6 separate regions of the Homo sapiens genome follow, and all the other regions are reported to be linked to region 5. The links are microRNA targets in miRTarBase. Many come from high-throughput screens and were not tested one by one. Region 5 holds a microRNA gene; each other region holds the end of a gene's coding sequence.

Region 1 (4,130 bases), not on the chromosome of region 5:
AAATTAACACCCAAACTTGGCTTGACCTCCACGGCTCTCCATTGCTTCCCCATATAAAGCTGAGAAATGCCCAAGAGCTCTCTGATCCTTTATTTCCCTTCTCTGGGCCAATGGGTGCCCCATTTCACATGTCTTCTCTCTCCAAAGACAAGTCTTCATACCATTTTTTTTTTCTTATTTTAATTTTGAGACGGAGTTTCACTCTTGTTGCCCAGGCTGGAGTGCAATGGCACGATCTTGGCTCACTGTAACCTCTGTCTCCCGGGTTTAAGCGATTCTCCTGCCTCAGCCTCCCGAGTAGCTGGGATTACAGGCGCCTGCCACAACGCCCGGCTAATTTTTTGTATTTTTAGTAGAGGCGGGGTTTCGCCCTATTGGCCAGGCTGGTCTCGAACGCCTGACCTCAGGTGATCCACCCGCTTCGGCCTCCCAAAGTGCTGGGATTACAGGCGTGAGCCACCGTGCCCGCCCCATACCACTCTTTCTTGAACACTCTGACTGTCCCTGGCCCCTACTCAGGGACTAAACCTTACCCTTTCAAGGCTTGCTTTTATGCCCTGGCCATCCACAACTTCTCTAGCCTTGAAGCCTTCCCCTCAAGGAACTTGGTCTAGTGGGAGTCTGACTCTCACGGGTCATGAATGCGGCTAAAACAAAGTGCCCCACGAGCTCAAGAGAGGTACCATGAACTGACAGGGGCAGACTGACGCTCCCCAAACGGTCTGACGGTGACCCTTGTGGAGCTGTCTCGCAATCAGAAAAAGGAAGGGAGGCAAATTATTCCGAAATCAGACTATGAGCAAACCTGGAGGCTGGAAAGAAAGCAATCAGGGTGGCGGAGCCTTTGGGGGTGCAATGAAGGCCCGATTCATCAGGGGCTTTGAATTAAGTTTAACCCTGCTAGCGATCTAATAAAGGTTGGCATGATTTGACTTAATTTTTATTTTGTTTTATAAAAGTTGACTCTTCGTTTTTCATTGTCGCTACAGCACAAACTCCACAAAGAAGTAATTCCACCCGGTGACTTCCCCACTGGCACTAATATGGTGTCCTCCCTCTAAGGAGCCCGAGACACTTCCGCCCTTCTCAGAAGTGACTTCCGTCCAGCTCGGCATGGCGGCAGTCACTGCCGTCACTTAGTCGCCGATCAAGGCTTGGACTAAGGGCCCACGGTCACTCGAGTAGGACTTGGATCGGATGCTGAATAAAACTCACCGTGAAGCAAGTCCCACTGAACGAAAAGTTGGTCGTAGCATTTCTCAGGTAAAAGAATCGGCACGAGCAGCCGTTTAAGCGGTCCGTCCGCCTCGGCCGCCATATTGCAAAGCTAGCTTCCGCCAGTCTCTCCAGACCGCCATTGACTTTCGTTGCGCGTGCGCGCTGCGGACACTCCGCCTCCCGTTCTTTTCCCGCGGCGAAGCTGGCCCGCCCCGTGCCCCGCTCTTTCTGACGCTACCCACCCTCACTCTAGTGGCGTAAAATAAGTCTCAGTCAGGGACCACGTTTTGGACGCGCTGTTGGAATTGTAAAGCTTGCCGAAGCTGCACGCCTGCGCGGTTAGACCTCCCACGCCTTTGTTGACGCTTCCAGTTTGGAAGCCAGATTTACACCCCTGCCTTTCTCCGCTCCTCCTGCTGGGCGCCATCTTGTCTTCTCCTAGCACACTTTGTATTGTTCGAAGTTGAGAGAGAAGGAGCCGGAGTCTCCGAGGTGGCGTTGGGTGGGGGCGCTACTAGCTCCCGTTCTCTCAGCGTCTCTAGAGGGAAGGGCGCCGGTGGGAGCAGGAGAGTCTGCACCGGGCAGGCCTCCTTAGGTGCCGGGTTGCGCGCAGGGCCCTGTGCTTGTCTCGCCTCCGGTTGGCTCAGGCCTCGGAGCATGAGTGCGCCGGCAACTGCTGGGCCCGGGACAGTGAAGCAGAGGAGGAGGTGGGGGAGGCGAGCCCAGGTCGGGGAAGGGCAGCACCTGAATCACCCTTGGGGCCCAGACCCCCAAGAGTCTCCGGGGAGCCGAGGCCTGGCGAGGCAGTCCCGGGATTCGCCCCCTCCCCGCTGGCCCGAGGGCGCACCACGTGCTGGGCAGAGACTTCGGCGAGGCCGAGTGGACCCTGCAGCGCTGCTTGGGAAAGGGCACCTTGGACTACCTGGTGGGGGCGTTGTGCTTCGTTACCGACCGCCGGGACGCCAACCCACGGTGCCCACCCGTGCGTCATTCCGCTGTGGATCAGCCCTTTGGCGGCCCCCCTCCAAAGTCTACAAGGTCACACGGATGTCTGCAGGCAGAGGTGGGGCTGCTGGGGCCCTGCCAGGTGAGGGCTGCCCTTGTGGGGCAGTCTCTGGGCCTTGGAGGCCGGAAGCCTCCTGGGGCTCCTACGGCTGGGGGGTGCTGCTCATCCTGGCTCCCAGGGATTGCGCCGTAGCCAGCTGTAATGGGTGGGACTGGCGCTCACTGCTGGTGCAGGCTGTGGCCATCTGGGAGGTCCTTTCTGGAATCTGGACCTTGGCTGTCCTGAGAGTGACACTCCTCATCTCAAGTACTGGGGGCATGAAGTTAGGCTTGGCAGGTGGCCCCGTGTGGGGGGCATGCTGTTCCCAGGAGCCCCCAGTGGAGGTCAGAGTACCCACTGCTCCTTCTTGATTCAACCCCTTGTAGGTGGGATAGGAGCATGCCAGGTGCTGCGAGGGTTTAATCGGGCTCTTCTGCTGGCCTTGAATATGGTGGACAGGACAGGACATTCTCATTGCTCAGGAGCCACTGGCGCTGCCTTTGGGAATGAAGTTCCACAGCCCCCCACTCATTGCTTTGGCTGTCTGCTGCATTTGAAACTGTACGAGGGTCAGGAAGAAGGCTGCGGGGATGAATGGCTCTACCGGCTTGCCACGGATGGGGAACTGGAGCAGCCAGTGGCCCCAAGAGGAGGAAGGAAGGGAGGCACGGCAGACCCAACACCAGCTGTGCCAGGCTTTGGGGGGTGAACCCATGAGGCATCGTCACACACTGACATTTTCATCCCTCCTCAGCAGCTGCTTCCGGCTCCCTGAGACCCAGCCATGGAAGGCATAGAAAGGCATGTGACAAGAAACTCATGGCTTTTAATCCTGGCAGGACAAGGAAAACCCCGTCAAAGATTTGCATAAATTTTGCTGCTCTCCTGCTGGGGGGGGGGGGGGGGCAGTTCGTCACATTTAATAAAATTCTCTCCCTCCCTTCTCCCGACTGCATTATCTCATATTTATTTATTTGAGACAGTCTGGCTCTGTCGCCCAGGCTGGAGTGCAGTGGCGCGATCTTGGCTTAGTGGCGCGATGACGGCTCACTGCAACCTCCACCTCCTGGGTTCAAGCAGTTCTGCCTCAGCCTCCCAAGTAGCTGGGATTACAGGCCAGCTGGGATTACGCCGCCACACCTGGCTAATTGTATTTTTAGTAGAGACAGGGTTTCACCATGTTGGCCAGGCTGGTCTCAAACTCCTGACCTCCAGTGATCCACCTGCCTCAGCCTCCCAAAGTGCTGGGATTACAGGCATGAGCCGTCATGCCCGGCTTTCTTTTTGTTCTTCAAGAAAGGGAAGGAAAATAACATTGTCTTTGAGCCAGTTGCGTGTCGAGGAAATAAGGGTACCCCCCCACCACACCCCAACCCCCTCAGTGCCCTGGGGTTTGAAGCAAATGCTCAGAGGGCCTGGTAGGCGGATGGGCGTCTCCGGATGATGCAGAAAGCAATAAGCACCAGGGCGAGGAGGCCAAGAAGGATCAGGCCGATGATGAGAGGCAGCAAGATGGACCGGTCACTGGGGCAGGAGAAACCTGGCGGAAGGATAGGGCAGGTAGGTATTTGCAGTGACGTGCTGGTTGGGATAAAGGTGGGAGGAGGGAATGGGGGGATGCTGGGGAGTAGGAGATTGGTGAGGAGCTCACCGCAGTGACTCAGCAGTGATAAAAGGGGGAAACTGGCAGAGTCTTGTAGAGGATGGAAAGAAAGCTGCCCTGTAGCCATGACAAGCTGGGAGAGCGAGATTTGGGGGGTTAAGAAGAGAGATGAGTGGCTTATGGGCCTGGGGAAGGGGTTTTCAGTGCAGTGGGAGGATTCTAGGAGGGAAGGAGTAGGTAGGTCTTACTTTGCCCAAAGACCCC
Region 2 (4,112 bases), not on the chromosome of region 5:
AAATAAATAAATAAATGATATGTAAATAAATAAATAAAAATAAAATCATAGACAGCTACTCAGGAGGCTGAGGTGGGAGGACTGCTTGAGCTCAGGAGTTCAAGGCCAGCTTGGGCAACATAGTGAGACTCCGTCTACATTAAGTCAATCAATCAAGGCAGGTACTTCCATTATCTAAATTTTGTCTTCCAACACATTTTAGGGGGGCTAATAAAGGATGCCAGTCTGTCCAGAAACTTGTATAGAAGGACTGAGTACTTCCTCATTCTGTATATGGCCACATGCAGTTAGCCCATTCCCTTCTTTAAAAAAATTTTTTTCTTTGTAGAGATGAGGTCTTACTATGTTGTCCAGACTGGTTTCAAACTCCTGGCCTCAAGTGATCCTTCCACCTTGGCCTCCCAAAGTCCTATGGTAACAGGTGTGAGCCATCATGCCAGGCCTACATTCCCCTCCTGATGAGTACTTTGGTTGTTTCCAAACGTTTCCTCCGAGAATAATGGCATAGTGAGTAACTTACAAGTGTGTGTTCCTAGAAGTGGAATAGTTGGGTCAAAAGGTATGCATATTTGTAATTTTGAAGAGATTGTCAAATTGTCCTCCAAAGAACTTATACAAATTTAAATTTCCACCAAGATATGAGAATAAATTTTCTGATAATTTTGTCCAGTTATCAAACTTTAATTTTTGCCATTCTGGCAAGTAAAAAATGGAATCTAAGGTAGTTTTAATTTGCATTTTTATTAGCATTAGGGAGGTTTTCTTTTCACATGTTCCAAAGCCCTTTGGGCCATGCACAGTGGTTCACATCTCTAATCCCAGCAACTCAGGAAGATTGCCTGAGGCCAGGAGTTTGAGACCAGCCTGGGCAGCATACCAAGGTCCTAGCTCTACAAAAAAAAAAAAAAAAATTGGCTGAGTGTGGTGACATGCACCTGTATGGTCCCAGCTACTCAAGAGGCTGAGGCAACAGGATTGCTTGAGCTCAGGAGTTTGAGGCTGCAGTGAGCTATGATTGCTTCACTGCACTCCAGCCTGGGTGATAGAGCAAGACTCCATCTCTAGTGGGGAGGAAAAAAGCCCTTTGTATTTTTTTCTATGGTGTATTTATTTGTATTATTATTTTTATTTTGAGACAGGGGTTCACTGTCACCCAGGCTGGAGTGCAGTGGCACAATCTTGGCTCACTGCAATCTCTGCCTCCTGGCCTCAAGCCATCCTCCCACTTCAGCCTCCCAAGTAGCTGTGACTTCAGGCGCACACCACCATGCCAGGTCAATTTTTTTGTTGTTGTTTTTTAGTTTTTAGTAGAGACAAGGTTTCACTATGTTGCCCAGTCTGGTCTCGAACTCCTGGGCTTAAGCAATCCGCTAACTTAGTCCTCCCTAAGTGCTGGGATTACAGGTATGAGCCACCATGCCCAGCCCAGCTATTTTTTTTTTTTTTTTGAGATGGAGTCTCACTCTGTTGCCCAGGCTGGAGTATAGTGGCTTGATCTTGGCTCACTGAAGCATCCACCTCCTGGGTTCAAGCAATTCTCCTGCCTCAGCCTCCCAAGTAGCTGGGATTACAGGTGCCTGCCACCACACCTGGCTATTTTTTGTACTTTTAGTAGAGACGGGGTTTCACCATGTTGGCCAGGCTGGTCTCGAACTCCTGACCTCAGGTGATCCACCTGCCTCAGCCTCCCAAAGTGCTGGGATTACAGGAGTGAGCCACCATGCCCGGCCAGCCCAACTATTCTTATTTGTTATGATATGATCTTTAGAAGTCTGTCTAAGACCTATGTAAATAGTTATTGGACAATGTTTTAAATATAGGTCAAACGTCATTAAAATATCATTGCAAATTAAGTAACTTGCATTTTTAAACTAATTATTGTGGAGAAACAGTATAACACCTTCAAAGTGTAAAATAATTTTATTATTGAAACTGCAATTTAAAAACTTGCAATTAGCTAAATAGAAGCCTATATACTCGTAATAACTAGCATTTTTGGCACTCGGGTACTGTGCTAGACGCATTTTTTTTTTTTTTTTCTTTTTAGACAGAGTCTTGCCCTTGCCCTATCATCCAGGCTGGAGTGCAGTGGCATGATCTCTGCTCACTGCAACCTCTGCCTGCTGGGTTCAAGTGATTCTCCCACCTCAGCCCCCTGAGAAGCTGGGATTACAGGCATGCATCACCACGCCTGGCTAATTTTTTGTATTTTTAGGAGAGATGGGGTTTCACCATGTTAGCCAGGATGGTCTCGATCTCCAGACCTCATGATCTGCCCACCATGGTCTCCCAAAGTGCTGGGATTATAGGCGTGAGCCACCGTGCCTGGCCTAGATGCTTTATACGAACTGATTCAAACCTCCTGCCACTAGAAGGTAGATACTTTTACTGTCCTCAGTTTGAGGGAATTAAGATGGTGAGAAATTGGGCCAAGCAAGGTGGCTCATGCCTGTCATACCAGTACTTAGGGAGGCCAAGGTGGGAGGATTACTTGAGGCCTAGAGTTCAAGACCAGCCTGGGCAAGAAAGCAAGACCTTATCTCTACAAAAAAATTTAAAAATCAGGAAAGCATGGTGGTGTGTGCCTGTAGTCCCAGATACTCGGGAGGCTGAAGCAGGAGGATCCCTTAAGCACAGGGGTTCAGGGTTGCAGTGAGCTATGGTCATAACACTACACTCCAGCCTGGGTGACAGCAACACCACCCTGTTTCTCTCTGTGGGAAATTAAATAACTTGTTCAGGCCCACACAGCTAGTAAGTGATAGAACTAGAACTCAAATCCAGACTTATTTTACTTCGAAACCTGTGTTGAATCATGTTTCATTGAGTTTTTTAGAAATCTTTTTTTTCAACTGGCAAAATAAAGGCAAACTAATTCCAGTAACATCAAATTCACTTAAGTTATTCGCAAGTATGGCAAAGGACTACAAAGTCAGAATAACAGGTGTAATTAACACTTCTGTGTGCTGGCTTTTTGCTCCACACGCCTTTCTAGGCCACCGGCTGCAGTGCTGGGGGTTTACAGTTGCGGACCACTCCTCCCAGACTTCTAGCCAGGTGGCTTCCAGTTTGGTTCTGCTATTTCTTGGCACTGGGGTAAAAATTAGAAGCTTGGAGAAAGTGCAGAGATGTTTCTTCTTTTGGTGGTGGGCTTGGCAGCCTGGACAGCAGCAGTGTTAAGTTGTCAGCAGCACTGGCAAAGAGACTCCTGGGCTTCTGAGCACTGCAGTGGCCACAGCAGCTCCGACAGCTCAGTGGCAAATGTGGGCTCGGGGCTCCAAGCCAAGGGCCGGAGCAGCTCCTGATCTGTGGCTGCAAAGCCCTTCTTCCCTTTTGTCTGGCTCCCGCTTCTACCTCCCTTCTGTTCTTTCAGTCTTTTGAAGAACTTTATAGCCAATCCCTGGCATGAAATTCTTCTCTGCTTGGCATATCTAGAGTGGCTTTTATTTTTCTGACTGATAAACTCTGCCACTAAAATTATACCAATATTTTCTTAGAATAACATTAAAAAGACTGATATTCTTACTTTTTTATATGGAAGACATAGGCTATAAGCACTCAATTTTCTTAAGGGAGAGAGCAAACTTTTTGCACTTTGTTTCCTTCATATATGGTGCAAAAAAGTTGATAGTCTCTATAAATTGCACAAGTGACTGGCAATGAAAAGACTTATTAATTCAGGACATGAGTTCTTTATGGGGCAATTATGCTCATATTGTTTTATTTATTACATGTGGGGTAATGTTAGACAAATAGCTATAATACAGAGATTGTACAATTTAAAAACTGTAATAAATATGGTCCATTAATAGCAGACTCCAAAATTCTTGTCCTTCTTGAAAAAAAGGTTCAGTGATTTACGATAATCCACTAAGAAACATCTAAATGGGAAGAAACACAGAAGTGATTTTTATAAGTCACTTAGTTTTTCAAATTGAAAATGGTCAGATAAACTACAGAACTTAAGTGAAGTGATACAAATCTACATATCAAACTATTTGGCATTTTAGATTAGAGAGAAACAGATTTTAAACGCCACAAATTTATCTCCCGAATCAATACTCTCCCCTTCTGAAAAAAAAAGTAATCTTATGGCATTGAGCACAACCACC
Region 3 (4,130 bases), not on the chromosome of region 5:
TGGCAGGGCCTGCGCCACCAGCCCTGGAAGCAGCTGTGCTTGGAGCTGCGGGCCGCATGGGGCGAGCTGGACGCCGGGGAGGCCGAGGCGCGCGCGCGGGGACCCCAGCAACCGCCGCCCCCGGACCTGCGGAGTCTGGGCTTCGGCCGGAGGGTGCGGCCTCCCCAGGAGCGGGCCCTGCTGGTGGTATTCACCAGATCCCAGCGCAAGAACCTGTTCGCAGAGATGCGCGAGCAGCTGGGCTCGGCCGAGGCTGCGGGCCCGGGCGCGGGCGCCGAGGGGTCGTGGCCGCCGCCGTCGGGCGCCCCGGATGCCAGGCCTTGGCTGCCCTCGCCCGGCCGCCGGCGGCGGCGCACGGCCTTCGCCAGTCGCCATGGCAAGCGGCACGGCAAGAAGTCCAGGCTACGCTGCAGCAAGAAGCCCCTGCACGTGAACTTCAAGGAGCTGGGCTGGGACGACTGGATTATCGCGCCCCTGGAGTACGAGGCCTATCACTGCGAGGGTGTATGCGACTTCCCGCTGCGCTCGCACCTGGAGCCCACCAACCACGCCATCATCCAGACGCTGATGAACTCCATGGACCCCGGCTCCACCCCGCCCAGCTGCTGCGTGCCCACCAAATTGACTCCCATCAGCATTCTATACATCGACGCGGGCAATAATGTGGTCTACAAGCAGTACGAGGACATGGTGGTGGAGTCGTGCGGCTGCAGGTAGCGGTGCCTTTCCCGCCGCCTTGGCCCGGAACCAAGGTGGGCCAAGGTCCGCCTTGCAGGGGAGGCCTGGCTGCAGAGAGGCGGAGGAGGAAGCTGGCGCTGGGGGAGGCTGAGGGTGAGGGAACAGCCTGGATGTGAGAGCCGGTGGGAGAGAAGGGAGCGCAGCCTTCCCAGTAACTTCTACCTGCCAGCCCAGAGGGAAATATGGATTTTCACACCTTGCCTGGCCACCCTGGAAAAACAAGCCAAGGAGGATTTCTTTTGTTCTGTTTTCTCTCTCTCTCTCTCTCTCTCTCTCTCTCTCTCTCTCTCTCTCTCTATTACTGTGGCTTTGGATTTCCTTATGTGTCTTACAGGCTTTGATAGAAGGGGAGGGGAGGAGAGATGCATACCCGTTTCTCAACTGCTCCATGGATTGAAAAAATAACAGTTTAAAAAGGGAAACAATGTGGGAGGAAGAATCACCGTTGACGCATCTTGATTTGGTTGGTTTTTACATGTGTAAAGAAGGTGGGGTCTCTGGCCATGTCATAGCCCATGTCTTGTGCCCTCCCACACAGAAAGTGTTAGATAGGGAAATTGGCAAAAAGAATAGTTAAGTCAGGAATGGTCCTGCCTATAGAAGAGCTTTGAGAGAGGTGGGCCCACGGGTGCCCCTCTCACCCATTTGTGTACTCTGTGAGTTTACCAGCTCTGCCCTGGCCTCTTTCGGTACCAGGAACTGGCAACCTTCATCTCACTCCTGAGGGCCCAGGTCTCTGCCTTCATTGTTGCTTTTTCTGGTGGGGGCAAGGGGAGCTGGTATGGATGGAATGACAAGAATTAGTCCAAATGGAACCCCTTGAAGGATAATGAGAAACCACAAGGCCTGCCTCTGACTGGGGCTGACACGGAGGTGCATTAGCCCAGGCTGGAGGTAGCCCACCCAAATGCCCTTTCTGATTCTAATTGATTTCTTTCAACAGAATTTGCCAAAATTCAGACATGCACTTCTAAGGGGAAGGTGATTTTCCAGTTCAAAAAAATGGGCAGGAGTGGGGAACAAAACAATTAACGTAAGAGCTACAAAGGAGGGAAAAGGAACCAAGAAGTAGAAGGAGTCCCATCAGGAGGGAAGATGGTGGGCCTCAGGGAGGATGGGGATCAAGGGACAGGCCAGGAGCCAGGAGTGGGGAAGGGAGGGATGAAAGGGGACACAAGTCCCTGTCTCTGAAGTTTCTTTAAAATCTGAGTTCCCTCCCCTCTCTTTGACATTCCTGAAAGATTACCAGCCAGCAATAGCCCAGGGCTCCCCCAAAAGAATTGGTTCAGATTGTAATTATCAGTTAGGCAATGTTTTTAAAACTTAGTAATGAGAAACTGTGAAAAGAGCCAAGTGTTACATTGAGCTTGGGGTGGGAGATGGGGAACAGGCAGTGAGGAAGGAGACAGGGGTGGAATTCGTCTTCTGGGAGGAAGCTGGAGAGAGCACAGTGAAATTGAAATACCCATTCCCAGATAGTCAAAAACATGAACTTTCCCCCAGCCTGCACCAGTATTGTTTTCAAACATTGCCCATGAGTAGGCCCTTTGAAGAGTTAGCTTCCTCCTCATCTTTGACTATAAAATTGTTTAATCAATGGAATTTGTACCAGCCTTTTAAAAAGTTTTAGTTTTTCCTAAGTGATTTTGCTCTCTTCCAATCTAAACCTGTTGCTTGTTTGGTTCAGAGAACTACAAACTGTCAAAGAAAGGGTGGGGATGATAAGAAATGCTAATATAAAAATGCTAAGTGAAAAAAAGACTTGGCCAGGAGAAATAATTTAAAATGCACATTTGCTTTGGATGCACTGTTGTTCTGTTAAGGCTGTATATATTTGTTTATTTAAGGTGACTGAAAGTGCAAAGAGGAAATGGACAGCATGCAATTCATCCTAATGTACAAAACGTTATATGCACTCAAATGTTATAATTTCTAATATTTTTAAAGTTTATATTCGAGTTGTACAAAGTTAAGCATTAATCAGATATTTCATTTTTTCATAATGTTACCATTTTCTTAAATATTATTACAAAATTTTAAGTCTGTCTAATGGAGAGTTTTTTTTAAACTGTCTACCTCATATAATACAAGTATTTACAACGCTAAAGTTACCAGAGGTCAATGAATAATCAAAACATTTTTTACAGTACACCTTTCCTGGATGATATGCAATCGAATGCTATATTATTAAACGCATTTTTCTCCTTAATAACTCAGCCTGGTTTATATGGATCGATTTAGAAAAATCCTTTTCTCACAGAATTATTGTCAGAGGTAGTTTGTTCCAGTTTGGGACTCAATGCCTGAAAACAAACTGATGATTTTAAAAATCTATCATTTAGAGCATTACACTTTTTCTTCATAACTCTTCAATAACTCCTTTTTCATGACATTTTTATTACTAGAATAAAGCCAAATCCTTGTCACCTATTAGACCAGTGTTTATAAGCCTGTCCCTCATCCCAGCACTTCAGGAATCCAAATAGAAATTGGATTATTTCTTAGTTGCTTTAATGTTGAAAAAAACAAAGCAGTAATGTTGAGGTAAGAAAGTGGTTACCTAAGTCAACCAAGATGTCAGTGTAATTACTCATTACCTTTGTGGCATACTGGAAGCAGAAGATACAAATGTTTTTCTGTGCTTGCTGTGAATTGGGGAACTCATGTGTGAATGTGAGCACTCACTCTATCAGGCATGATGTTATTCTACACATGTAGAATCTCATTTAAAACCCTCAGAGGTAGATATTATTATAATCCCCATTTTACAAATGAGGAAACCAAGGTGCAGAGAATTTAAGTAACCTGCCTGTGGGCATCCAGCCAGGGAATTGTAGTTAGGATTTAAAATTAGTTCATTCAGACTCTAGAGCCTGAGGAGTTAACCACTGTACAATTCTGTCCCCAGATCATCTACCTGCTCTCTGATTGGTCCCTAAATATTGACGTGGGGAATGTGCAGTTAGCTACAATCCTTAGGGTTGGTCAGCTGGCGGAGGAGGAAATGGTACAGAGGCCAGCAGCATTGCCTGAAGTTTTGGAGTGTGTGAATTGTAACTGCTGGCATAAGGGCAGCTGAAAAATGGGTATGGGTTGCAAAACTCCTTGAATTCTTAGCTTTGGGCTTGGCCCAGTAAACTTACAGTTTAAGCCATTACTGGGCTTTGGCTCTCTACTCTTTGCTGGGACTGCCCTGGGTGTGATTTTTATGAGTTTTGGTTATCAACACAATAGTCAATTTACAAATAGGTCATGTTTCAAAAAACTGGTTGCAAGTGGACCCTTAGAACTAAGAAACACTTTCCCGTGGACACGGTGATTGTTTGAGTTTCCAGGTCATTTTGCAGAAACTTTATTTACCCAAATGGAGCTTTTTAACAAAGCAATTTTGA
Region 4 (4,000 bases), not on the chromosome of region 5:
ATCACGAGGTCAGGAGGTCGAGACCATCCTGGCTAACATGGTGAAGCCCCGTCTCTACTAAAAATACAAAGAATTAGCCGGGCGTGGTGGTGGGCACCTGTAGTCCCAGCTACTCGAGAGGCTGAGGCAGGAGAATGGCAGGAGAATGGCGTGAACCTGGGAGGTGGAGCTTGCAGTGAGCCGAGAACCCACCACTGCACTCCAGCCTGGGTGACAGAGCGAGACTCTGTCTCAAAAAAAAAAAAAAAAAAAAAATTGCAGTCAGTCGATAAGCAGTACCGTGGGGCTTGGTGGGGTTAAAGCCAGTGGATACACAAAAGTCTGTCAGTTTCATTTACCTGTCCCTTCCCCACCAATAATCGAGGGTTGGCTCTATTCAGAACTTCTCTGTCCCTTTCTTCATCTCCTGATTTTGCCTGCTGACTAAAATATGAATTGGGTAGTCATTTTCTCTCTTTTTCTCCTTTGGTTTCCTAGGTTTTTGGGTCCACTGCAATGACTCAAAGCTGAATGTATGCAGTGTCGAGGAAGTGTGCAAAACCCAGGCCTACATCCTTTTTTACACTCAAAGAACAGTGCAGGGCAATGCAAGAATCTCAGAAACCCATCTCCAAGCTCAGGTGCAGTCCAGCAACAATGATGAAGGCAGACCACAGACATTTTCCTGAATGGGAGGCATGTATCAAAGACTGGCTTTTGTGTATTGGTGTCCATACATCTTTCCTCTTATAGGAAATAAGGCTACTGCAGGAACAGATTACTAGGTTTGCCTTGCTGGGTCTAGAGTAGAAGGTGCCAGGTGATTCGTGTCCTGTCGTAAATTTTATAGTCTCTTTCTTTTGAATGAGTTTGGGAGTTCCCTCCTTTCCTAAAAACAAAAGAAGTAACTTCTATGAAGATCCTTTCATCAGTTGCTTCTGAATATAGAGGGATCTGGGTGGAGGAAAGCGGGGCGGGGGGGTAAATCAATCATATCCACACAGGAGAGCAGCCATGTTTTCTCTCCATGATGTGATTCCCCTGCTAATCAGGACCTCCTTGCAGCACCAGAAGAACCCTCCGGATGTGAGCAGTCCTGGACAGAGCACGTGAGGAGGGGCCCTGGGCTAGCAGTTTGCTGGATGGGATTGGCTCCAAGATGGGAGATGAAGTCTAAAGGGTTTATTCCCACAAAGGAAGTAACCTTCAAGGGTTTAAAACAAACTTCCTTTTTTGGGGATAGCAGCTGAAGAGTGGAGTGAGATGCATGGAACAAATTTCCCCATGCAAAGTGGGATGGTTTTCATATGTCATACCCTCCCTACTTGCTGCTGTCATATAATCATTCCATACTTCTGAGACTGGCATGAATACCCCTTCATTCTAAAGAAGGGGCAGGTCATATAAAGAAGCAATAGACTAGCACATGTTCCATGCTGAGCCAAAGGACACTCCTGGCTATCTCAGTTCTGTAGCAGATCCCTGGTTCAGGTCTAGGGCAAGCACATGGTTTGGTTTAAATTGATTCTTAGGTTTTCTCAGAACTCAATTGAGGGTGGGCAGAGATAGCTGATGCTCCAGGGCTTATTGAAGGCCTGTCACCCGTTCTCACTTCAGTGCGGCATGCAGCTTCTTAGCCTGCAGCTTCTTTCTTGCTCCTGGAGAGCTAGAACATTCATGTTCACAGGGTTTGGGAGCTTTTGGTTCTCTAGGGTATGTTAACTGCTTAGGAGTCCACCTCGTACATATCTGAAGAGTTGATTACCAATGGCCTTGACCTGTTTCCTCCCAAATCTGATAATCCCTACTGTTGCTTTACCCCCCATACTCAGTCCATCAGAGAAAAAAACAAGAGTGCCCCGTCCTTTCCCCCAGTGCTAGTAAAATACATCTTCCTTTTTAAATTGGGTCAGTTTCTAAACAGAATGAAATTGCCCAGATAAAAACCCTTGTCCCCATCAGGCACCACTTCATTCTTAGTTCTTCACTTAGATTTGCTGGTGAAAGTGAATGCAAACCCTAACTTTTGTTGCTGTGGTCACTGCAGTGAGCCTCACTCAACCTGTCACTATGAATGCTCATCTTTTGACTGAGTATATCATATTAATGTTTGAATTCAGGTAGAAGTACAGTTGTCACTTGAAGGGAGTAGATGTGGAAGGGCGTTCGGGGAGGAGTGGGAAGTGGGGAAAGCCAGGCTAAAGAATGAGGGTTATAGCTTTAGCAATGTTGATGAGCCACATTTCCCACACAGATCTGTAGCATTTGCTGTTGACCTCTTTTGAGATGAACTCTCCCATAGGCCCTGCCAGGCAGCACTGAGACATGGAGGAAATTCAGACAAAAAATGGCTCACCCTGATAGGGAAGGAGTGACTATATTTTAAATTAAACTTGCTTTTTCCAACACTGTGAGGTTTCTGTAATATTTAGCTTTTATTTGGAAGCGATAGCGTATGGCATTTTTTATGCTGTTTGGTTTATATTGTCTACTGCAGGCTTCTTTGTATAAGCTTTGCCTGGGCTCACCCTCTCCTGGACACTGTTTTAAAGTGTCACCGCTGTCCATGCTGCCAGAGGCTCTGATGTGAAGCTGTACTCTCAAGATCCACGTTTTTAAGTCGGCATGATTAGTAATGACTTTTTGTGGCAATAGAAAAGCCCATTAACTCAAAAAAACCAAGGAGAGTAAAAAGGAAAGGAAACTATGAATCGTGCCTCATCTTTCATTGAATCCTATATTTATTATTCTAGAAAAAAAGAACTTACAAGATAGAGAAGAACTAATAGAGCATCTACTTTACCCCTCAGGCTGTCCAGTGGGGATAATTATTAATAAACATTTAATGGAAAATTCAAAGATCTTCCAATTTAATTTTTAAAAATAGTTTTATACCAAATATTATAAGGATTTATTAAGCAGATTAAGGACTTTGTGAAATAAGTGCTTAACTTAGCTGAGCACGCATATATCAAAGTAATAAAAGAAACTAACATCAGAGTCTCCACTGAGCTACACATTTGTGAAAGGTGCCCACTGCAGTTACAGACACCTCAGGTACCCAGAGGCGGCAGCACTGGACACTTAGGACGTTAGTATTTAAGGAGATTTTTATTAAAGAAGAGTTCCCTGCTGCATAAGCCAATGGCTATTGTGAGGGAAATGTCCCTTTGCCTTTAATTTATTTACGTACTGGGTATAGATGAATGTCTCAGTTGCATCTGAAATTGAATCATTCTAAAGAGAAGAAAATAAGAACCAGGTAAAAACTGACTAGATGCTGCCAAATCAAACCCAAGGTCTCCTAACCGAACCTTAATGGGCCTGCTTCTCTCCCAGGGCAAGTAGTTAAGAGTCTCATTCCAGGAACCCTTTGTAGTTAGTTGGCTGGCATGTTTACTTGCTGCTGTAGCCAGCCAAGATGAGTGCACCTAGGCCCTCAAAAAGGATTTTTTTTTACCTCAATCTAGCCTGACCCTCATATCTGTGGTTGCCTCTGAGACGAACATCCATGCTAGTATAAAAATAGTTAGGAATGCCCTTGGCAGAACTGAAGCTCTTATTAAATGGTGGACAGAGCTCTTGCCAGCTTTGATCCAGCCCCTCAGTCTCGGAGTTATGGGGCAGGGTTGGGGGGCAGTGCTACACTGTAAAGAATTTCCAGGCTGGGCGCGGTGGCTCATGCCTGTAATCCCAGCACTTTGGGAGGCCGAGGAGGGCGGATCACAAGGTCAAGAGATTGAGATCATCCTGGCCAACATGGTGAAACTCCGTCTCTACTAAAAATACAAAAATTAGCTGGGCATGGTGGCACGTGCCTGTAGTCCCAGCTACTTGGGAGGCTGAGGCAGGAGAATCGCTGGAACCCAGGAGGCAGAAGGGGCAGTGAGCCGAGATCGTGCCACTGCACTCCAGCCTGGCGACAGAGCGAGACTCTGTCTTAAAAAAAAAACAAAAACAAAAACAAAAAAAAAAAAAGAATTTCCAGATGTCTCTTAAAATGTCATGAATAAAATTGGAA
Region 5 (4,000 bases):
CCCTGGCCGCAGGCCGCCCCCCTGCCCCTCTGCTGCGCACTTCCTAGGGTCGCCTCGCCAAGCCGTTGCCTTGGAGACCGAGGTTAGCCTGAATCTCTGCAGGGGCCTCGCGCCGAAGGCTGGGGTGGGAGAGCGCATGCGTGCCTGGGGCCTTAGCCAGAGGTCGGGCAGGGCCCACTGGTCTCTGCCGCCCTCTAGTGACCGGCGGTGGGACTGCGCCCCGGCTGCTCCCGCCCTAACAGCTTCTGCACACTTCAGATCTGACTGAAGACACTGAAATCCCAGAACGAAGCTGGGGTGGCATTCTAAGGAATTTTCTTTTCCCCCTGAGGCCTTTTTCATAAAATTGTGGCAAAATATGCATAAAATTGCCATTTTTTATTTTTAGAGACGGTCTCGCTCTGTCGCCCAGGCTAGAGTGCATTGGTGCAATCATGGCTCACTGCAGCCTCGACCTCCCCGGCTCAGGTGATCCCCCCACTTCCACTTTCGGAGTAGCTGGGACCACAGGCGCGCGCCACCACGCCCAGCTGATGTTCTTATTTTTCTGTAGAGATAATCTTGCCTTGTTGCCCAGGCTGGTCTCAAACTCTTGGGATCAAGTGATCCTCCGGCTTTGGCCTCCTGAGGTGCTGGGATTACAGGCGTGAGCCACCGCTCCCAGCCTGAGGACTTTTAAAAGCCAGGGTTCACTGGTTCTTAGGTAGCAGTGGTGAAGTCCGGCCAAGATTGGAGTTTAGACCATCTAATCTGATTTTTTAAAAAGGGAAACTGGCTGGGCGCAGTGGTTCACGCCTGTAATCCCAGCACTTTAGGGGGCTGAGGTGGGTGGATCACCTGAGGTCAGGAGTTGAAGACCAACCTGGGCAATATGGTGAAACCCCATCTGTATGAAAAATACAAAAATTAGCCGGGCATGGTGGTGTGCACCTATAATCTCAGCTACTTGGGAGGCTGAGGCAGGAGAATCACTTGAACCCAGGAGGCGGAGGTTGCAGTGAGCTGAGATTGCACCATTGCACTCCAGCCTGGGCAACAGAGTGAGATTCCATCTCAAAAAATAAAATAAAATAAAAATAAATAAATGAATAAATATAAAAGGGAAACTGAGGTGCATGGAAGAAAGCGAGAGGGCCGAGCTCTGGCCCTCCGAGCTCTCAGGACACGCTGTTCTCCAGCTGGGGATATGGGGCCCCTCACGGCGTCTCTGTGCCATTCTTGCCCTAGGAGATGCTGAAGGACGAGGTGCGCACCCTCACTTACCGCAACTCCATGTTTCATAACCGGCACCTCTTCAAGGACAAGGTGGTGCTGGACGTCGGCTCGGGCACCGGCATCCTCTGCATGTTTGCTGCCAAGGCCGGGGCCCGCAAGGTCATCGGGGTGAGTCTCCAGGGTGGCCAGGCGGGGCCGGGCCTGAGGGATGGAGGGGAGCCCATCAGGGCTCAGGGATTGGATGGAGGTGATGGGGGCAGGGGATGGGTCTCACCCTCCCTTCTTCCTGGGCCCTCAGATCGAGTGTTCCAGTATCTCTGATTATGCGGTGAAGATCGTCAAAGCCAACAAGTTAGACCACGGTGAGCCCAGAAAGAGGATGGGTTTGTGGGAGTGGAGGGGGTGATGCCCTGCTTCCCCAGGGCCCTCTGAAGAGCAGTGGGGTCTACAGATGACCACAGATTCAGCAGCTCCCAACCCATGGTCTTTTGGGCTGCCGGCCGCCTGAGAATCTGAGTGTCAAAATCACAGGCTTAGCACCGCAGTCTTAAAATTAGGGCAAGAAGCACTCTCTAGTTTCTTGAATGAGTAATAGAGTCACGTGGTTGGCCACGGAAGGCCCACAGTGAGAAGCCTTCCCTGTTTCCCAGCTGCCCTCCTCTGAGTTTAACCAACACTAACTTCCAGAGAAGTCTGGACCTACAAACACATACATACGTAAATGCATTTACATTCTCGTGCATAATTTTCACGCCAGTAGCATTTCATACCAGCCTCTTGCCCTTGGCTTCTTACACCTGCTTGTCATGTCGTTTAACACTTTCCAGGATGTTGCGGCATCCGCTCTTTTGCATGACCACCATCATAGGTACATCCCCAGCATTTTTTTTTTTTTTTTTTTTTTTTTGAGATGGAGTCTCACTCTTTTGCCAGGCTGGAGGGCAGTGGCACGATCTCAGCTCACTGCAAGCTCCGCCTCCTGGGTTCAAGTGATTCTCCTGCCTCAGCCTCCCAATTAGCTGGGATTACAGGCGCCAGCCACCACGCCCGGCTAATTTTTTTGTTTTTTTAGTAGAGACGGGGTTTCACCGTGTTAGCCAGGATGGTCTCGATCTCCTGACCTCGTGATCTGCCTGCTTGCCTTGGCCTCCCAAAGTGCTGGGATTACAGGTGTGAACTTTTTTTTTTTTTGTATTTTTTTAGTTGAGACATGGTTTCACCATGTTGGCCAGGCTGGTCTTGAACTCCTGACCTCAGGTGATCCATCCACTTTGGCCTCCCAAAGTGCTGAGATTACAGGCGTGAGCCACCGTGCCATCCTGAAGTGATTTTTAAAAAGAGATTATTATAATGAACGCACGAGTCCATTTGAAGCAAATTCCCACTGTGATGTAATTTTCCCGGTAAATGCGTCTGCTTGTGTCTTATCTAATAGATAAAGGCTGTTTTGAGAATGTGATCATGCTGTTACTTATTATATCAAAACCACCCAGTTAAAAACAAAATCGCGGCCGGGCACAGTGGCTCACGCCTGTAATCCCAACATTTTGGGAGGCCGAGGCGGGCGGATCGTGAGGTCAGGAGATCAAGACCATCCTGGCCAACACGGTGACACCCTGTCTCTACTAAAAATACAAAAAATTAGCCGGACTTGGTGGCTGGCACCTGTAGTCCCAGCTACTCGGGAGGCTGAAGCAGGAGAATGGCGTGAACCCGGGAGGCGGAGGTTGCAGTGAGCTGAGATCACGCCACTGCACTCCAGCCTGGGTGACAGAGCAAGACTCCGTCTCAAAAAAAAAAAAAAAAAAAAAGTAACATCACCTGATACCCAGTCCACATAAAATTTCTGCTCCTGCCTCAAAAATGTCCAGAACGATGTATGAATTTTAAAACTGTTAGAAGGGTTCATGGCTTCTGCTCACGCAGTTCTCTGAACTGAAGTGGGGTCCCCAGGCTCTAGCCCCCGGGGGAGGTGAGGTGAGGGGCAGGCCTCCCGGGGGCTGACGTGGCCACCCTTGTCCGCCCGCAGTGGTGACCATCATCAAGGGGAAGGTGGAGGAGGTGGAGCTCCCAGTGGAGAAGGTGGACATCATCATCAGCGAGTGGATGGGCTACTGCCTCTTCTACGAGTCCATGCTCAACACCGTGCTCTATGCCCGGGACAAGTGGCTGGTGAGGCCCCAGCGGGACGGGTGCAGCTCGCGTGGGCTGGGGTCCAGGTAGAAGACGAAAACCACGCTCAATTTTTCCCACAGACGGGACTTACTGTGGGGGCTTAGCTGCAAGGTGTTAGAAAGCCACAGCCCAAGCCAGGTGTGACAGACCCTGGAGGGAGATGGTGCGATGTGGGGGAGGTCGTAGGAACAGGAAATCCGTAGCGGCGCAATAGCCCAGGTCCTTAGGCCCCAGCAGGCCTCCCCGGGAGAGGTGAGGTGACGGAGAGGTGGATGAAGCATACGGAGGGGCAGCCAGGGCAGGTGTGCCCTTGCTGCGTGTGGAACAGCAGGGAGGCCCGTGTGGAAGGAGGGTCTAGAACGGCAGCAGGAGGAGGAGTGGAGGTGAGGGGTGACAGGGCGTGTGCAGATTTTGTGGAGGCTTATGGGACCCCGTGCTTTTCCTCTCAGAGCAGCTAGGGAGGGTCTGAGGATCCCCAGAACCTCCAAGGGCCGGGAGCTGACTGGGGTGCCCCTGGGTGCCCTCTGGCGGCCGTGTGGGAAATAGACCAGGGGGCGAGGGGTGAGTGCCGCTGCGACATGAGGGTGGCCCAGACCAGGGCAGGAGGCCA
Region 6 (4,130 bases), not on the chromosome of region 5:
ACAAAATGCCTGGGGATAAATGGGTTTGAAAATCATTGCCACAGACTTTAGACCTAAAAAGGATCACTGGGATCACCAAGTGAGAAAACTGAGGCTTAGGGAAGTGAGATGCCTTGTCCACGATGTACTTAGGGAAGCTGCCATGTCCAAATGGCATGTGACTCATTGAGAGACCACAACAGGAACCCAAGAGCTGCCTCAGTGACACATGGAGCTCAAAAAAAAAGAGAAGTTAAAGGGAAGAAGAAAGGAACTTTGTCTTGTGGGACAAAACACATGCTGAAGTGATGGGGCACCATGGTCCCATCAGATGCGTTGGAGTTTGCCTTCTGTTCCAATCATAAAGCCCCATCTGCACAGTGGCAAGCCCTTTCCAAGGGTTAGTCCCCATGTGTTTGAGGTTTCCAGGCAAGAGCCACATCGAGCCTCCATAAGCAGGCACTGTGAACCCTCAAGACTGAACAGAAAAGGACCACATCCCCTGTTCCTACTCCTGGCCCAATGCTAAACTTCAGTAGGCTATTCCCCTAATTCTGGAGCAGATAGGAAAGGCAGATGGAAGAGAATGTACACTCCTTCGTAGTTCATCTGGACAGTAATCAGGAGCTGACCCAGGGTGGGCGTTTGGAAGGACTCAGCCTCCGTCCTGCCTGGTGCTGGGATCAGCTTACACAGCTCCTGTGTCCACAGGGCACAGAGAATACATTGTCCATAAGGAGGATTATTCTGTACAAGAAGCTCAGACAAAGGGAGAGGTTGTTTCCAGCTGCCTGGGGGAGGTGAGAGGGGGGTGGGAAAAGGGACCAGCCTTGCACTGGGGCATTCCTGCAGAGTTCAGCTTCTTCTCTGTGGCAGCACAACAGGAGGTGGGCAATTACACCCCCTCCAGCTCAATCCTAATGCTGGGACCCATTATGGAGTTCTAAGGAGCACTTGGCTACAACCTATCTATCTTGGCTGTTTCCCAAAAAACGACAGGGTTGAATGAGGTACACCAGCTAAGTAGGGCAGCAATAAACACCAGAAGGGGAACAGAATGGGGTGACTGGCACAATGAGCAAAAGAGAGGTTCAGCAATGACTGAATCCCAGGCTCAGGGCAGAGCTGGAGAGGGAGAGATCCTAGGCAATGGGCCTTATGCTGACATTGATTGGATAAGCTTCCGCCTTCAGCAGGATGAACTCTGTCCTGTAGTAAGCTCTTGACGTTTCACAGCTGCTGCTTCTTTCTCCATCCTAGACACAAACCTAGGAGACAATGGCCTAATCTCTTTCTCCAGGGGACCCAAGAATAGGAGAAAGCACGATCTCCAAGCAAAACAGGACAGTCAAAAACAGAGGAATGTTACCAGAGTAGGCCAATAGTCACCTTTTGCAAATCCTAAATCTGAGCCAGTAAATAGGTCATGTCCCCTTCTTCAAAGGAAAACTGTATATGTATTCCCTCCTGAGGGAATGAGTATGTTAGGGGTGGGAGATACATACTCTCTATTGAGGCATTTAATAGGCTGTATGGACCCCAAAGTGGGAGACACTACTGAGATTTGTGTACTCCAGATGATTTGAGGATGGGGGATAAAAACGACAGCATGTGCTCCTACGGTGATGAATGTAGAGGAGTCCCTCTAGAGGAAGGAGTGTTTGCTTAGGGGAACAAGATGTAGGTGACATCCTGCATATGTTCCTGTTGGGGCAAGAGGATATTTCCATTCTTGGATGACAAGGAATCCATTTTAATAGTATGGTGGGGATGAAGTCAGTATTTGCCTGGGACACAAAAAAACTTGGGGTTGGTGCCATTCAATAGGAGGGAATCTTTTGGTGGAGTAAAGGACAATAGTCACCAAAAGATGCTCCAGGAATTTCAGAGAAGCACAGCTCAAACTCTACCCAATATGCCAGTTAATACTGACATTTCCAGTGGGAAGGGAAGAGGTGAGAAGATAACACCTGAGTGGGCTGATGAGCCGGAACAGTTTAAGTGGGGGAAAGGTCTGGCATTGCCTTAGAGCTGGTGACCAGACTCCCCTACTGCTATGTATTGTGGTCAGTGAGCTTTGTGGATACCATTCCTCACCTTGATGGAATGGTAACAGATGTGACATCTGGGACCACTTTTCCAGTCCTTTGCTGCCACAGCCTGGCAGAACTTTGTTTGGCACTGAACAAATGCCAAAGTACCAGTGTGTGACAGAACAGAAAAAAGGCAGCTGGAAGGTATGAGCAGGAGGGAAGTTTCAGGATTTTTAGATCAAAGCTAATTAAAGATACGGAAACTTTTTTATGGAGAACAAATTAGAACTGCCTTGCAGCACTCTTGAAACTGCCCCTCTGATCCCTATGTAGTGCTCTCATAAATTACTGTCAGACAACCCTGAGCCAGTGAACATCAATTTAAATAACTTTATTCAGAGGAATCCTTTGGTCCACTTCTGCTGACTCAACCCCTGCCCATGCCAACAAAGGAGTACTAAGAAAGGCAGGTTAGCCTGAATGTCTAAATTCAATTTGTTCAACTTTATAAAAGCAGGCAAAGCTACTGGGGGTTGCCCCCTCCCACCATCATTCTGGTCCACCATTTGGGCCACAGGCTTAGGGAAATGAAGGAAAGTCGTTTTCTTTGAAGGAAATCCTGGCCAAAGTCGAGAAAGTGGGCACCATTATGAGGTCAACTAAACCCTGATGGCAGTGTGAAGTGCAATTCCCTTCTCCCTCCAAAATAAGAAACATGAATCCAGGGGAAGGGGCTTTTTCGTGTGCTAAGGAAAAACCCTTTCCCACATAGTCCTGCCTGGCAGAGCCACTTCCTGAGAAAGCCTCGTGTGTATAAGGTGGGGTAAAGGATAGGGGACTTTATGACTATTTGACAGGTAAAAGCCAAGTTGGCTCCTTAGAGGATGGAAAGGAGAGCAGGCCCAAGCTTCACCAGAGCTGCAGGTGGGCATTTTTTTTTCCTTCCTGGCCCAGAAGCTTCTTCACCTTGCGCCTTAGAGGGATAGCCAGAATGAAACCCAGGCAGGAGGGCCTGCAAAAACAGTGTGCCTCTAAGAACACAGAGGTTGCTACAGTTTCTGGCAGCACAAAATAAGCATAGCCTTATTTGATCTTGTGTCCATCAGCTCACCATTGACGTGAGGCAGTATCAGATTAGGGTAAGTTCTGGATCAAGGACTGTGGAGGGTGGTGGGGAGAAGGATCTGTAGAAACTATCATTTATTGAATACCCATTATTTCATATACTGTACTAAGTGCTTTACATTCATTTCCTCATTTTAATCCTCACAACAACCCTATGAGGTAGGTATTATCACCATTTACAAATGAGAAACAGGCTCAGAAAAATTAGGTCACTTGTCCAAGGTCACACAGCTAGTCAGTGGTGGAAGTGGGATTTGTCTGCTGCTGAAAGCCCATGTTCTTTTTATTGTACCCATCTAGGTGAGCCTTGAGCAAAAGGTAATTTCACTGCCCAACTCTGCAAAGAGCACCAGGGAGTCGAGGTTGCCAGCCACACTCACCGCTGGTAGGGATGCATGGAAGCCGACTTGATGTTGGTTTTTATTCCACTTGGCATTTTCCCTGAAAGGAACATTAAAAAAGTCATCTTAAGCAAGGTAAGACTTTCATGACAAATCAGAAATGTGGTACCTCAGGTTCCCTCTGTCACTTCCTTTATCATCTCAGAACCTCTGCGGCATCTGACCCTGTTTGACAGAGGTCAGAAGTATGATTCTTCACCCAGCTGTCTCCCTGAAGGTGTCCAGGAGGAAAGAAGTGACATGGGAGAATAGTCTGTTCATCCACTCCTAGAACAGATAGCTAAACCTGTGTGACTCCCATTTAACGTCACAGGTAAAAGAGTACTATGTTCTCTCATTGTTTTTCTTTTTTTATATCATAATAAGTGCAGAATCTCTCTTTAATTGTCCCTTTTCCTAGACAGCTTGGAGGAAATAACTCTTCTAGCTGCCTGCATCTAGACTGTTCTAAAAATGAGTAGGAGAGAAGGCAGGAAGCCAAGAGCAAGAGAGGCAGGATACAGAGAAAAGAATACATGTAGGACTGGAAAACTGGCCTGCGTGTCAATTCCTGATGCACCTACCAAATGGTCTTAAGATCTGACTGCTGATT

What was found. Region 5 holds the annotated microRNA hsa-miR-5088-3p (UCCCUUCUUCCUGGGCCCUCA, at 1,492-1,512, shown strand). A microRNA usually pairs through its seed, bases 2 to 8, with sites in the 3' UTR of a target mRNA and lowers its output. Matches are read on the target gene's strand: a 7mer-m8 pairs with bases 2 to 8, a 7mer-A1 pairs with bases 2 to 7 and ends in A, and an 8mer does both.
Region 1: miRTarBase lists CD68 as a target of hsa-miR-5088-3p. Seed matches in the 3' UTR shown: 8mer at 3,201-3,208.
Region 2: the mRNA of KNTC1 is a reported target of hsa-miR-5088-3p. The part of its 3' UTR that is shown has no 7-base or 8-base seed match.
Region 3: miRTarBase lists GDF6 as a target of hsa-miR-5088-3p. Seed matches in the 3' UTR shown: 8mer at 868-875, 7mer-m8 at 1,081-1,087 and 7mer-A1 at 1,890-1,896.
Region 4: miRTarBase lists USP49 as a target of hsa-miR-5088-3p. Seed matches in the 3' UTR shown: 7mer-m8 at 1,367-1,373, 7mer-A1 at 2,121-2,127 and 7mer-m8 at 3,855-3,861.
Region 6: miRTarBase lists MED8 as a target of hsa-miR-5088-3p. Seed matches in the 3' UTR shown: 8mer at 2,702-2,709.

What each region holds. Positions count from the first base shown.
Region 1 is chr17:7,581,051-7,585,180 of GRCh38, reverse strand. It overlaps CD68 (CD68 molecule), which reads right to left. Exons shown (of 6, transcript NM_001251.3): 5 at 4,115-4,130; 6 at 3,070-3,803. The coding sequence ends at 3,670. MPDU1 (mannose-P-dolichol utilization defect 1) reads right to left here and starts at 1,329. Exons shown (of 7, transcript NM_004870.4): 1 at 1,216-1,329. The coding sequence starts at 1,318. It overlaps MPDU1-AS1 (MPDU1 antisense RNA 1), which reads left to right and starts at 1,089. Exons shown (of 2, transcript NR_136402.2): 1 at 1,089-1,263; 2 at 3,018-3,207. RefSeq lists enhancers at 1-756, 991-1,520, 757-1,631, 1,631-1,680, 1,632-2,505.
Region 2 is chr12:122,625,974-122,630,085 of GRCh38, reverse strand. KNTC1 (kinetochore associated 1) reads right to left here. Exons shown (of 64, transcript NM_014708.6): 64 at 3,690-3,881. The coding sequence ends at 3,858. Among named protein-coding and RNA genes, the nearest start is that of MIR9902-1, 68 kb to the left of the region's middle.
Region 3 is chr8:96,141,150-96,145,279 of GRCh38, reverse strand. GDF6 (growth differentiation factor 6) reads left to right here. Exons shown (of 2, transcript NM_001001557.4): 2 at 1-2,947. The coding sequence ends at 717. Among named protein-coding and RNA genes, the nearest start is that of GDF6, 18 kb to the left of the region's middle.
Region 4 is chr6:41,793,201-41,797,200 of GRCh38, reverse strand. USP49 (ubiquitin specific peptidase 49) reads left to right here. Exons shown (of 8, transcript NM_001286554.2): 8 at 478-4,000. The coding sequence ends at 668. Among named protein-coding and RNA genes, the nearest start is that of TOMM6, 7.5 kb to the right of the region's middle.
Region 5 is chr19:49,680,683-49,684,682 of GRCh38, forward strand. It overlaps MIR5088 (microRNA 5088), which reads left to right and starts at 1,435; the gene lies at 1,435-1,513. PRMT1 (protein arginine methyltransferase 1) reads left to right here. Exons shown (of 11, transcript NM_001536.6): 4 at 1,228-1,383; 5 at 1,514-1,577; 6 at 3,245-3,387. RefSeq lists silencers at 1-233, 80-244, 3,929-3,988.
Region 6 is chr1:43,381,529-43,385,658 of GRCh38, forward strand. MED8 (mediator complex subunit 8) reads right to left here. Exons shown (of 7, transcript NM_201542.5): 7 at 2,389-3,578. The coding sequence ends at 3,514. MED8-AS1 (MED8 antisense RNA 1) reads left to right here and starts at 3,521. Exons shown (of 2, transcript XR_001738027.1): 1 at 3,521-3,613; 2 at 3,756-4,130.